2 separate regions of the Homo sapiens genome follow, and region 1 is linked to region 2. Evidence: fine-mapped expression QTL. Tissue or cell type: testis. Region 2 holds a variant in brackets; the other region holds the start of a gene. All regions are shown on one strand. Distances are between the middles of the regions.

Evidence for each region. PIP is the estimated chance that this variant, and not a neighbour inherited with it, causes the effect. A credible set is the group of variants that fine-mapping cannot tell apart.
Region 1: LINC00452 starts here. The variant in region 2 is the best candidate, but not a certain one, in a credible set for the expression of LINC00452 in testis (GTEx, PIP 0.52).

Annotation. Positions count from the first base shown.
Region 1 is chr13:113,891,829-113,898,385 of GRCh38, forward strand. It overlaps LINC00452 (long intergenic non-protein coding RNA 452), which reads left to right and starts at 3,275. Exons shown (of 8, transcript NR_164112.1): 1 at 3,275-3,421.
Region 2 is chr13:113,934,353-113,940,909 of GRCh38, forward strand. It overlaps a transcript of C13orf46 not described here. Among named protein-coding and RNA genes, the nearest start is that of SWINGN, 8.6 kb to the left of the region's middle. RefSeq lists enhancers at 1,640-2,141, 2,142-2,623. The variant G/A (reference allele first, on the strand shown) is at 2,938.

The sequences.
Region 1 (6,557 bases), 43 kb before region 2:
AAATTTTTAGTGAAAAGTGTAGAATCAGTATCTAATTTCACTTTTTAAACTTTGCATGTGGATATCCAGTTGTTCCAGCACCATTTGTTGAAAAGACTATCATTTCTCATTTGAATTGTCTTCGTTTCTTTTCAAACATCAGTTGGCTATATTTGTGTGGGTCTTTTTCTGGACTTTCTGTTCTGCTCCAATGATCCATTTGTCTATTATTTCAACAGCACCACATAGTCTTGATTACCATAGCTGTATAGTAAGTCTTGAAGTCAGGTAGTATCAGTTCTGTGACTTTGTTTTTCTTCAGTATTGTGTTGGCTATTCTGGGTCGTTTGCCTTTCTACATAAACTTTAAAATCAGTTTCCTGGTATTCACAAAATAACTTGCTGGAATTTTGAATGGAATATATTGACTCTATAGCAAGTTGGGAAGAACTGGCATCTTGACAATACTGAGTCTTCCTATCCATGAACATGGAATAGTTCTCCATTTTCTTGGATTTTAAAAATTTATTTCATTAAAGTTTTGTAGTTTTCCTTATATAGATCGTATACATATTTTGTTAGATTGCACCTACATATTTTTCTTTTTTTAACTTGGGGCTAATGTAAATGGTTTTTTTTTTTAATTTTAAATTTCAGTTGTTCATTGCTCATATATTGGAAAGCAATTGATATTTTATTTATAGTCCTTGGATTCTGCAATCTTCTTATAGTCACTTATTAGTTTAAGGAGGAGTTTTAAAATTGTTGATTCTTGGGCATTTTCTATCTGAACAATCATGTCATCTGCAAACAAAGAAAATTTTATGTCTTCTAATCTGCATACATTTTATTTACTTTTCTTGTCTTATTGCATTTTAATATGATGTTGAATAGGAGCAAGTGAAAAGAAACATCTCTGCCCTTTCCTAATCTTGGGGGAAAAGTGTCTAGTTTCTCACCATTAAGTATGACATTAACTGTAGGTTTTTGTAGATATTCTTTGTCAAATTGAGGGAGTTCTCTATTCCTAGTTTTTTGAAAGTCTGTATCATGAATGGGTGTTGGATTTTTGTCAAATGTTTTTTATCCATCTACTGATATGATCATATGACTTTTCTTCTTTAGCCTGTTGATGTGATTAATTTCACTACTAATTTTGGATGTTGAACCAGCCTTGCGTAAGTGGAATAAAGCCCATTTGATCATGGTGCAGAATTCTTTTTATACATTGTTGAATTTAATTTGCTAATATTTTGTTGAGAACTGTTGCATCTATGTTCATGAGAGATATTGGTCCTTAGTTTCCCTTTCTTGTACTGTCTTTGATTTTGATATTAGAATAATGCTGGCCTTATAAAATGAATTAGGAAGTATTCTCTCTGTTTCTGTTTTCTGGAGCAGATAGTAGAAAACTGGTATAATTTCTTCCTTAAATGTTTGGTAGAATTCACCAGTAAGCCTTTCTGGTCTTGGTGTTTTGTCTTTGGGAAGATTATCAGTTATCGATCCAATTTCTATAAGAAATATGTCTATTAAGATAATCTATTTCTCCTTGTTGTGAGTTTTGGTAGATTGTGTCTTTCAAGTAACTAGTCAGTTTCATCTAGGTATCAAATTTCTGGGCATAGAGTTGTTCATTATATTCATGTATTATCCTTTTAATGTCCACGGGATCTATAGTGATGTCCCTCTATCATTTCTGATGTTAGAGGTTTGTGTCTTCTCTTTTTTTTTTCTTGACTAGTCTGACTAAAGGTTTATCAATTTTATTAATGTTTTTAAAGAACCAAATTTTGATTTCATTGATTTTCTTTATTGTTTTTCTGTTTTCAATTTCATTGATTTCTGCTCTGATTTTTATTATTTTTTTCTGCTTACTTTACATTTGATTTGCTCTTCTTTTTCTAGTTTCTTAAGATGGAATTTTAAGTTATTTACTTTAGATGTTTATTCTTTTCCAATATATTCATCCAATGCTGTAAATTTCCCTCTAAGCTCTGTTTTCACTGATTCTCACAAATTTTGATAGGTTGCATTTTCATTTTCATTTAGTTCAAAATACTTTTTAATTTCTCTTGAGGTTTCTTTGACCCACATATCGGGCTGATTCTTTTCTTATCAGCTCACTGATGAACCCATTAAACACACTCTTCACTTCTGTTACAGTGTTTATAATTTCTTGCATTTCCTTTTTACACTTTCTTTGCATTTCAATTTTACCTATTCATTTTTTAATATTGTTCACTTTTTCTATTATTAAAGCCCTTAGCACATTAATCATAGGTATTTTAAATTCCCGATCTGATAATTCCTAAATTTCTACCATATCTGAGCTGGTTCTGATGCTCATTTTGTGTCTTCTGACAGTATTTTTTGCCTTTTGGCACGCCTTGTAATTTTTTCTGGAAATCTGGACATGATGTGTTAGACCGAAGAAGCTGAGGTAAACAGACCTTCAGCCTTTGCTGTGAGGTTTTTGTTTATCTGGCTTTCTTTCTTGTCATATTGCACCAACCATGCCCTCTAGGACAATGGTGGAAAGAAATGGTTAGAATGGTCAATCTTGCCTTGTTTCCTATCTTAAGAGGAAACTGATATTTATGTTCACTCTAGGTTTTTAAGAATGTTCTTTATCAGTATGAGATAATTTCCTTCTATTTCAAGCTTCCTGGGTTTTTTCTTTAATCATTAATGGTTGTTGATTTTCAAATGTTTGTTATACATCTGTTGATGATTAGAATTAATCCTTTATTTTCTAATCATATAAATTACATAAATTGACTTTTTTTTTTTTTTTTTTTTTTTTGAGATGGAGTCTGGCTCTGTTGCCCAGGCTGGAGTGCAGTAGAGTGATCTCAGCTCACTGCAAGCTCCGCCTCCCGGGTTCACGCCATTCTCCTGCCTCAGCCTCCCAAGCAGCTGGGACTACAGGTGCCTGTCACCACACCTGGCTAATTTTTTGTATTTTTAGTAGAGACGGGGTTTCGCCATGTTAGCCAGGATGGTCTTGATCTCCTGACCTTGTGATCCACCAGCCTCAGCCTCCCAAAGTGCTGGGATTACAGGCGTGAGCCACCATGCCTAGCCATAAATTGACTTTTTAAAAATTACACTTTACTTTGAAGTATATGTAGATTCACACACAGAAGTAACACAGAAATCCTGTGTCCTCTTCACCCAGCCTCCCCCAATGTCAACTCACAAAGCTACAGAGCAACATCACAATCAGGACACAAACATTAGTGCAGTTGAAGCACAGGACATTTCCATCACCACAAGAACTCCAGTGTTTGCCTGCTTCTATCACACTCCAGTGCTTTTAAGCAGGTTTTCCCCCCATATTTTACCTAAAGTTTATAGCTGTTACCTGTGGAAAGGTTGGTTCAGTGGGGGCTATTCTGCCATTACCAAAAGTTGGGTCCTGTTCTCTACTTTTTAATTGGTAAGCATGCTTTGTAGTTATGGAAATCAACTCTTTGTAAGTGAATTGAAAACTCCCAGCCCCCAGTTTTTCTTTTATTTACCATGTTTTTTTCCCACAAAGAGTTTAAAAGTGTAAACATATTTTATTAGCTTTGTTTTTTGCAGTGCCTTCTGAATTTTTTATCCAGAGAGGTGTTAAGATTTTCCTGAGTGGTCTTCTTCATTCTAAGATTATAAAAATATGCACCTTTGCTTTCTATTACTTTCTGTCTTTCTTTTCCTTTTCTTTGTCCTGCCCTCCTTTTCTCTATCTTTCCCTCTTTTTTTTTTTTTCCAGCCATGAGTATTTATCAAGTGTGCCTATGATGCAAGAAAGAGAGATGGTCCCTGGTCTCACAGAGCTTATATCTTCATGACTCTGGGATCTGGCTAGATTTAGAAATAATTGCAGCAAGAACTTGTCTGTGTACCCATCAGCAGCACTGTATAAAGCACATTTTCACATTATCAGTCACTGTTACAGTGAAATTGTTAAGTGAGTAAAAATTATCCTTAAAATCTGTAGTCATAGAGATGACGTGGTATATAATGTCCAGCAAATGCACATTTATGGCTTGATTCCTCACATATCTGAGGGGTCTCCCTGGGATAATAGTTGCTATTTAGAATTGCCATCTTTCCTACTTTTAGGTGGAGTGGTTTTCCAGTTGAGTGTTCTTAAGATAAGCATTACTGAAAGGAAAGATAGCAGAAAGAATTTTTTCTTGGTTTCCCTCTTCATAGATGCCAGTGCTCCTGGATCAGAGTGGAGCCTCCTGCTCACGCACTACTTCTGAGAGCCAGTGGCGACCACAGAGGGAGTGCCCTCTTTCTTCTTTCACATTTAAATCTTTTTTAAAAAAAACTTATTAAATTTAATTTTAATTTGTGTATGTGTGTGTGTGTGTGTGACCAGGTCTTGCTGTGTCACTCAAGCTGGAGTGCAGTGGTACAATCATAGCTCACCCCTGGCTCAAATTCTTGGGCTCAAGTAATCTTCTCACTTCAGCCTCCTGAGTAGCTTGGACTACAGGCATGCACCACCATGCCCAGTGAAATTTTTAATTTTTTAATTTTTTTTCTCTACAGCCCCCAATTTTTTATTTCTTTTTTTTGTAGAGACTCACCAGGTTGCCCAAGCTGGTCTCAAACTCCTGGCCTCAAGCAATCCTCCTGCCTCAGTCTCCCAAAGTTCTGGGATTACAGGTATGGGCCATTGTGCCCAGCCTACATTTAAATCTTTGATCCTCTGAAGTGTGTTTTAATACATGCGATAAAGAGTAGAGAGGAGGAATTTTGTTTTAGCAAAATGGATAACTAATTGTCCTAATATCATTTATTGAAAAATTTATCATTTAAATATTTTATTTTGAATCCTCTGTATTAACCCTTAAGTTGCCATACCCTCTTCACAGATAGGGTATCTGAGAATAAGTTAAACATGCTCTTTGAGGTCACACCCCTGGAAACTTGAAACACCAGAATTCAAACTAAGTCTATAGACTCCACAGCTCACTTTTTGCCCCTTCCCATTATAAACCACCTTGTCTAGTGCCAGAGCTCAAAAGAGGCCGTGGGAACCCACTCATCTGCAGCCTCCTGAGAGACCGTGATTTGGAAAAGTTAAGGGCCCACCTGAGATTACCCAACAGCACAAGATATCATTAGTCTCTTTGTCTAGTGCTGCCTTCCAGGAGAACATGTTTTTGGAGAATGTCTTTGTGCTGCTAAAATAACTCAACTCCCTTAGATGGTTCAAAACATCTCAGCCTACAGCAAACTGGGCTTCATTTTGCACTAATAAGGTTCTATTGTTAATTTCAGAATCATATATTGCTATTTGAGATGCACCAATTGGCTTTAGATGGGAAAGGGTTATAAGAAATCGGAAGGTTTATGCTGCAAAGAGGGAGAGTAAGAGTTGGCATGTGGCTGGTACATTCCTTCCTTTTATGCTCCCCTTTTGTGGTGGCGAAAGTATGCTTTGCAGAGAGGTGAGAAGGAGGAAAAGCAGTTGGCTTGGCAGATGGACCAGGAGTGCTGCTCCCAACTGGGGCCCACGGGGCAGGAGCCCTCACATTCCACAGAGGAAGGTCAGCAGGAAATACTGACATCATGTCCGTGTCTATGAACGGCTGGAATGCTCTGTGGTTCCTGAACCATGTGAAAAATATGTGAGGTTGAAATGGGGAGATGCCCACTGCCATGAGCCATGTCTGCCAACATCCAGGTTTCCACCATTGGCTTCTCTTCAGAGCCCTGAGAGAGCAGCCCTGCAGACACTGTTCATGGACACTGACTGTGGCAAGAGGTGGCGACAGACCCTTGAGCTTAGTGGTCTATAGCTAGTAGGATTGATGATGGGGTAATGTGGGATTGATAGGGCGAGTAACATGGTATTAATAGTGGATTCTCTGTGGGGTGGCTGGGGGCATATCATGGGCCTGGTGGTTGTTGCAGCTCTGCTCTTGTCTTACTGTCTGCATGGTAGAGCTTGGCTAAAGCCAAAGGACACCCTGGGCCTATCTCCATTGCCCTAGAGGAGAAGGCAGGGCAGGTTCATTAGTCACAGCTGCTTCACCTGTTCTCTGTTCTCTCTGCTCTCAGGCTGTGGACAGTGCTGGGCCCACAGAAAAAGGTCCCTGACCTTGTAGACCAGGGCTTTGCAACCTATCTGTGGGGAATAATATGTTTTATTAATTTCCAATGTGGACAGAGATTTTAACACCCCCTTCCAGTACTTGTGATGTGGTTTGGACACCACGTCTCTTCGCCCACCACTCACCAGGATGGGACCAGACAGCCTCAGCCCTCCATCTGAGATAATACCCCAAGCAGGGAACCTCTTGGGAAAAGGCAGAGTTGCTATGCCAAATAAATCACATGTCCATTTAGTAATAAACCAACACAAATAGCACAAGTGGATTTTTGTGGCGTTTCCAAAGGTGAGCCTGTCTGTCCAGTGAAGCTGAGGAATCTGGACTGGGAGGACCCAGACTGCAGTCCGACCTCCAGCACCTTAGGCAGCCAGTGTTTCCAGTGCTGCAGCCACAGCTGAGGGGAAAACAGTTTACCAGACTTTAATGATGTTCACAAAACAACCACAGCCCTGGGCA
Region 2 (6,557 bases):
CTGGGTCATAATGGCAGGTATGTGTTTGACTTTTTATGAAACTACCAGACACACAGGATGGATGGAGATGAGTCGGATGCATGGGCAAGGGTGTGGGGCCACAATTAGAAGAAGGGGTCTTGCAATTTTCCTTTTAAAAATCACTTTCAAATAAAGGAAATAGACCCACACATACATGGTAAATTACTTTCCAACCAAGGTGCCAAGACAACTCAATGGGAAAAGAAAGATTGTGTGTGCTGTGGGCTAATTGGCTACGGTGAATCGAACTGCCCTCCAAACAGTGGACTCTGGGCAAGTGCTCGAGGCCTGCCTTTCAGTGGTGATCCTCACCACGCCATCTGGGCCCCACTGCTGGGCTCCACGCATACACACTGGAAAACCAGACCTGAGCGTGTCGCTGCGGAGATGTGCTGTGAGCCACCCTGATGGGGTCACACGGGAACTCCGCCAGCACCTCTAACGGGCCCCACTTGGTAGGTGCCCCAGTTATGGTCTCCAGAATCCAGCCAGGAGGGAATGTAGTCTGAAGAGAAGCAAGTTCTAAACGGGCTCTGGGAAGGGGCTGTCCTTGCACCCGGAGTGAGGACGAGGTATTGGCCCTGTGGGGAGCTGACTGGCTACAGGGAAATATTTTTGAGGAAATCCTGGCCTTCTTCCCTTCCATTCCCACTGGCTCAAAGGAGCCAAGGCATTCCTCCCTCTTCTGGGCAAGTTCTCCATTTTGCTTCCGACGTTACAAGCCACTTCAGACCCTTCCTCCCAGCACAGCCCGAGGGGGGGAACAGTTTCCTGGCCAGTGGCGAGAGGGCCTGGGCTGGCCGCCTTCCTGAGGCCTCAGCCTTGCTGGGATGGGGCTTGGTCCCTGCGGCTGTGGCAGTGACTCGGCCCCCGGCGCCCTTCAGCTCCTCAGGGAGAGGTGGAAAACAGCTCTGGAAAGCCACTGGGAGGGGCGACTGCAGAGGTTAGGGGCCCCTGGCCCTGACCGCTGCTTCTCCAGCAAGCCTGGCCCCCTTGTGCTATTAACCAAGAAATGCTTGGCCTGTTTGCTTCCGGCTGTGAAGCGCTGGCCCTGGTGGAAGCCAGGACAAACAGAGCCCGGGGTAGCTGCTGCGGGGCTGAGCTGGGCTGAGCCAAGTCCTGATTCTACCAACCCTGGCTTTTGTGGGATTTCAAATTGTCCTCTTAAATATCTCCCAGAAAGCAAACATTCTTCCTCTTTAATGAGGAAAGGGATTGGTAGAAGGGGTCTCTTGACATCTCCCTGGAAGGGCCAAACTGGCAGCCACTGGCAACACCACTCGGGTTACCCACGGCAACCATTGTTTTGGGGTAAACTGCATACGTGCCCTTAGGGTGGGAGTTTTCCTGCCGGGAATGCATTTTCATTTTTACACTGAACTTTTCTCTGCTCCCAGCCCGCCAGCCACCGGCAAAATACACCTCCCAGATTAGGGTGCTTTAAAAGAGAAATAAACAGCCCTGTGCCCCCAGGGGCCATGCTTGGGCCTAGTGTCAGCTAAAAAATAGCAGCTTTATGAATCGTGATCACAGACAATCCTTGTGCCATGTGAAATGGACGCAGTCACACTGGATATCATTTTAAAATCTAGAGTTGTTTAGCACTGAGTTGATGAAAAGACGGCAGGATTCCATTAAGTTCAAAGTTCTCTAGCATTGGACAGAAAAGCCATCTACATGTAACCGATTTTCATCAAGTTCAGAGGCTCAAAGATGGAGGTGGAAAAGACAGACCTCAATGAAGAGCCGGAGAAACTCAGGAGTCAATTGAGTCATCAGCCCAGGTGAGTGTGGCTGCTTGGAGTCTCTGGGTGAGCAAGTAACTGCCAGCGGCTTCTTCCTACTCAAGGCCCGGATAGAGCCCATTCATCCAGGCAACATCCATGAGTGTTGATAGAACATTCATCCAAGTTCTAAATGGGCTCTGGGAAGGGGCCGTCCTTGCGCCCAGAGTGAGGATGCGGTATTGGCCCCGTGGGGAGCTGACCGGCTATGGGGAAATATTTTTGAGGAAATCCTGGCCGCCTTCCCTTCCATTCCCACTGGCTCAAAGGAGCCAAGGCCTTCCTCCCTCTTCCGGGCAAGTCCTCCACTTTGCTTCCGACATTACAAGCCACTTCAGACCCTTCCTCCCAGCACAGCCCGAGGAGGGGGAAACCGTTTCCTGGCCAGTGGCGAGAGCTGCAATAGAGAAACAGTTTTACACACGCAGAGCCGGCTAAACAGGACACTAGAGTTTTATTGTTACTCACATCAGCCTCCCTGAAAATGCAGAGACCAGGGTCTCTCAAGGCTAGTTTAGGGGAAGAGAGTCGGGTGGGTAGGCAAGGGCGCTTGCTGCTGACTGGTTGGGGGTGCAGTCGTCGGGGTGTGGGAAATGGTCCTTGTGCCCCGAGTCGCTTCTGGGTGGCACCAGGGAGGCTGACCGGTCCAGGGGGGGAAATCAGTTGTCAGACTTGCAAAAAACCTGAAAAGACATCTCAAAGGCCAGTCTTAGGTTCCACCGTAGTGACGTTATCTGCGGGAGTAGTTGGGAAGTTGCATATTTTGAGCTCCAGAATAAAGGGGGGTAATCCTTTGTGTCTCCATTTTAGCAGAATTCAGGCTCCTCTCGTCCTCGTAGCCTAGTGGTCTCTCAATAGCTTTACAAAGGCTGTTGAGTTTTGCGGAAGGGTTATTATCATTTAAGCTATAAACTAAATGTCTCCCAGAGTTAGCTTGGCCCAAGCCCAGGAATAATTAAGGGCAGTTTGAAGGCTAAAGGCAAGATGGGAGTTGGTTACCTCGGGTCTCTTTCACTGCCATAATTTTTCCACTGTTATAATTTTTGCAAAGGTGGGTTCATGCCTGTGGCATCCCCGGTCCGAGGCTACAGGACTCTCCTCCCAGGGATCCAAGTGACTGTGCAGTGACCGT[G/A]GTCACGCCACAGCCACCAGCCAGAGTGCAGTCCACATCGTGGCCACGTATGGCTCCTACAATCTCAAGCTTGCCGAGAAGGCAGCCGTAAACCCGCACAGGTTAGAGTCCTTTCCCTTGGTTATGGTAACAATCATTAGCACTGGGGTCTTTCCGAATCCAGATGCAGCCACGACCTCTTCTCATACACAGCTGCAGGTGAGATGAACATCTCAGTAGCGTTGTAAACCAAAAGGCGTCTGAGATAAGGCTCAGTCAATTTAGGAAGTTTATTTTGCCAAAGTTCAGGACGCACCTGTGACACAGCCTCCGGAGGTCCTGACAACATGCCTGAGGTGGTCGGCGCAGAGTTTGGTTTTACATATTTTAGGGAGACATGAGACATCAACATACATCGGATGAACGCTGGTTCGGTCCGGAAAGGCGGGACAGATGGAAGCAGGGAGGAGGCTTCCAGGTCGTAGGTAGATAAGAGACAAACGGTTGCACTCCTGAGTTTCTGATTAGCCTTTTACGGAATGCACAATTTACAGGAATGGTCACTCATGCCTGAGTCTGGCTCAGTGAAATGAGGGCAGAGGAAGTGATCAGCTGTGTGCGTTTGTCTCACGGGAGCAGTGGGGTGACTTTGAGTTCTGTCTGTGCTTTGTCCACAAGGAATTTCTTTGTGGGCAAATCGTGAGGCAGGCGTGTAGCTTTTTAAAATCTTTGTAGTTCCCTTACTCAGGAATAGAATGGGAGGCAGGTTTGCCTGGCACAGTTCCCAGCTGGACTTTTCTCTTAGGCTCAGCGATCTGGGGTCCCGAGAATGATTTTCCTTTCACAAGATGAACATGCAGCTCAAAGGGGGAGTGGGATGTGGTTGCGGCCTCAACTGAACGCCTCTCTGGACCCAATAATTAAAAGGACTTGCTCCTCAGATAAAAGTGCTTTTCTTTTCTCAATAGTGAGTCTATGAGGTTCCTATCTGCTGCTTTAACAGATTACCACAAACCTAGTGGCTTCCAACAGCTCAAATGTATTATCTTACAGTCCTGGAGGGGAAAGTGTGAAAAGGGCCTCAGGGTGCTGAAGGCAGGGCTGGCAGGAGCCTGGTGGAGAAGCCACTGCTTTCTTTTCTCAGCCTCCAGAGACGGCAGCAGCCTTGGCCCACGGCCCATCTTCAAACCCAGCATCTTCAAATTGCTCTCTCTTTGACCCGCCCACCTGCCTCTAAGGAGCCCAGACCTTACGCTGGGTCCAGCAGCCTCTCCATCCTCCCTAAACTCCAGGAGCACCCACCGAATAATCCAAGGCTATCTCCCGACTTGGGATTCCTAACCTAGTTCCCCCTGCAAGGTTGCCCTGTTCAAGCGTCCTGGGGGTTCAGCCTCCGACGTCTTTGGGAGGGGCCCTTGCTGTGCCCACCACTGGGAGTCGCTCCCTTCCACACGTCCGCCGTGAACTTTCCATTCCAGAAACACTGCACCAGCTGTAGCTTCTCTCAACACACAGCTCTTTCCTGTCTCCAGGTTTTGCTCAAACTTCCCACTGCCCAGCACGTCCTTCCAAACAGCCTTCACTCACTCTCAATCCCTATGGAAAACTCAGCTTGGGCCTCACGCCCAGGAAGCCTCCTGGCCCCAGGAGGCTCAGGCCCTGCTGTGCACACCACAGCACCTGCGGCCTCCCTGGGAACCCAGCCACCCCCACCCCAGGCCCACGTTTCCTCAGCCAGCTCCTCCCACGATCCCTTCCAAGCTGGCATTCCAGACCCGCCAGGTGCCTTTCACCCTGTTGTAAACTCCGGGAGGGCAGAATTCAGGTCGGACTCATCTCTGTGGCCTCAGTGGAACTTGCTCAGCTCAGGGTCAGGGACAACAGCGTCCGGCTTCTCACTCCTTCAGGTCCCGGCCCTTTGCACATAGGCTTGGCTGCCTGACACGTTCCAGCCAAGGGCTGCAGCTGGCCCCTTCCCCCCGCCCCGGTGATGCCAGAAGCCACATGTTCCGGAGTGTGGAGCTGCAAGATGCAGGCAACCCAGAGCCAGAAGGGGACCACCCGATGGGGAGGACAGAGACCACCCGATGGGGAGGATGCAGACCACCCGATGGGGAGGACAGAGACCACCCGATGGGGAGGACGCAGACCACCCAACGGGGAACACGGGGATCACCCAACTGGGAAGATGGGGGCCACCTGGACGGGGGGAACGGGGACCACGTTGATGGGGAGGACAGAGACCACGTGGATGGGAAAGATGGGGACCACGTGGATGGGGAGGGCGGCACCACTCAGCCTGGTTCACACCTTTTGCAATAAGCAGCCGCCTCCTCCTGGGCTTTGGGCTGAAGGGGGACCTGCTCCAGGTTCTTAGCCGTGAAATGGGCACAGACCCGTTTCTCACCCCTGACAGGGAGGCTGTCCAGCCCTGGAGATGTTGTCACTCAGGCTCCCAGTGACCTCCTGTGCGCTGTGTATCCTGGGCCAGGGCACTGACCTCTCTGGGCCCAGCGCCATCTCATGCTCACAGGTCTGATGACAATACTTCTCAGGAGGTGCTGGGAAGGCCAAAGGGATCATCCCATGTGCTTCTAAGTCAAACACGATTCAGCGTGAAAAACACTGGCCTGGGTCATCAAGAAACCGGGTGCCAGGCAGGATGAAAGGAAGTGCCGCTGGCCTCATCTGAGCCAGAGCCTCCTGTCTGTCATGTGTGTGGGCTCTGACGCAGGGGGACCAGGATGCCCGGGTGGCAGCCGTGATCAGGGGAGGCATTCGGGCCACCTCAGAGGCCCCAAGAGGCTACCTGCCTGCCTGGCCCTGCCCATGCGGCCAAAGTCCACCCCAGGGGCGGGGGCTGCGCCTCGGCCTCAGATGCACCGTCAGCCGCATTTGGCTCCTCTTACTACTGAAGAGGGGAAGGAAGAGTGTGCAGCAGGGGCCTGGGCCGTTTCCCCGGAAGCGAAGAGCAGGAGGCCAGAGCCAGGTGGGCTCCCCTAGACCCTGCGGTGCTGCCGCCAAGCCCCCCACCCCCAGATGAGCCAGCCTGCAGCACACACTGGCGGGGTGGATGCCAGCCGAGTATTCCCAGGGGAAGCACTTTCCCTGTGCCACCCAGACAGAAGACGCAGGTGCTGGTTTCCTATGGGGCTCTGCGTGAGGATGGGCGTCTGGGACCCTGGTCTCCTCTAGGACTCCATGTGTGAGGCTGGGCATTCGAGACCCTGGTCTCTGGGACTCCATGTGTGAGGCTGAGCGTTCGAGACCCTGGTCTCTGGGACTCCATGTGTGAGGCTGAGCGTTCGAGACCCTGGTCTCTGGGACTCCATGTGTGAGGCTGAGCGTTCGAGATCCTGGTCTCCTCTGGGACTCCGTGTGTGAGGCTGAGCGTTCGAGACCCTGGTCTCTGGGACTCCATGTGTGAGGCTGAGCGTTCGAGATCCTGGTCTCCTCTGGGACTCCGTGTGTGAGGCTGAGCGTTCGAGACCCTGGTCTCTGGGACTCCATGTGTGAGGCTGAGCGTTCGAGACCCTGGTCTCTGGGACTCCATGTGTGAGGCTGAGCGTTCGAGATCCTGGTCTCCTCTGGGACTCCGTGTGTGAGGCTGAGCGTTCGAGACCCTGGTCTCTGGGACTCCA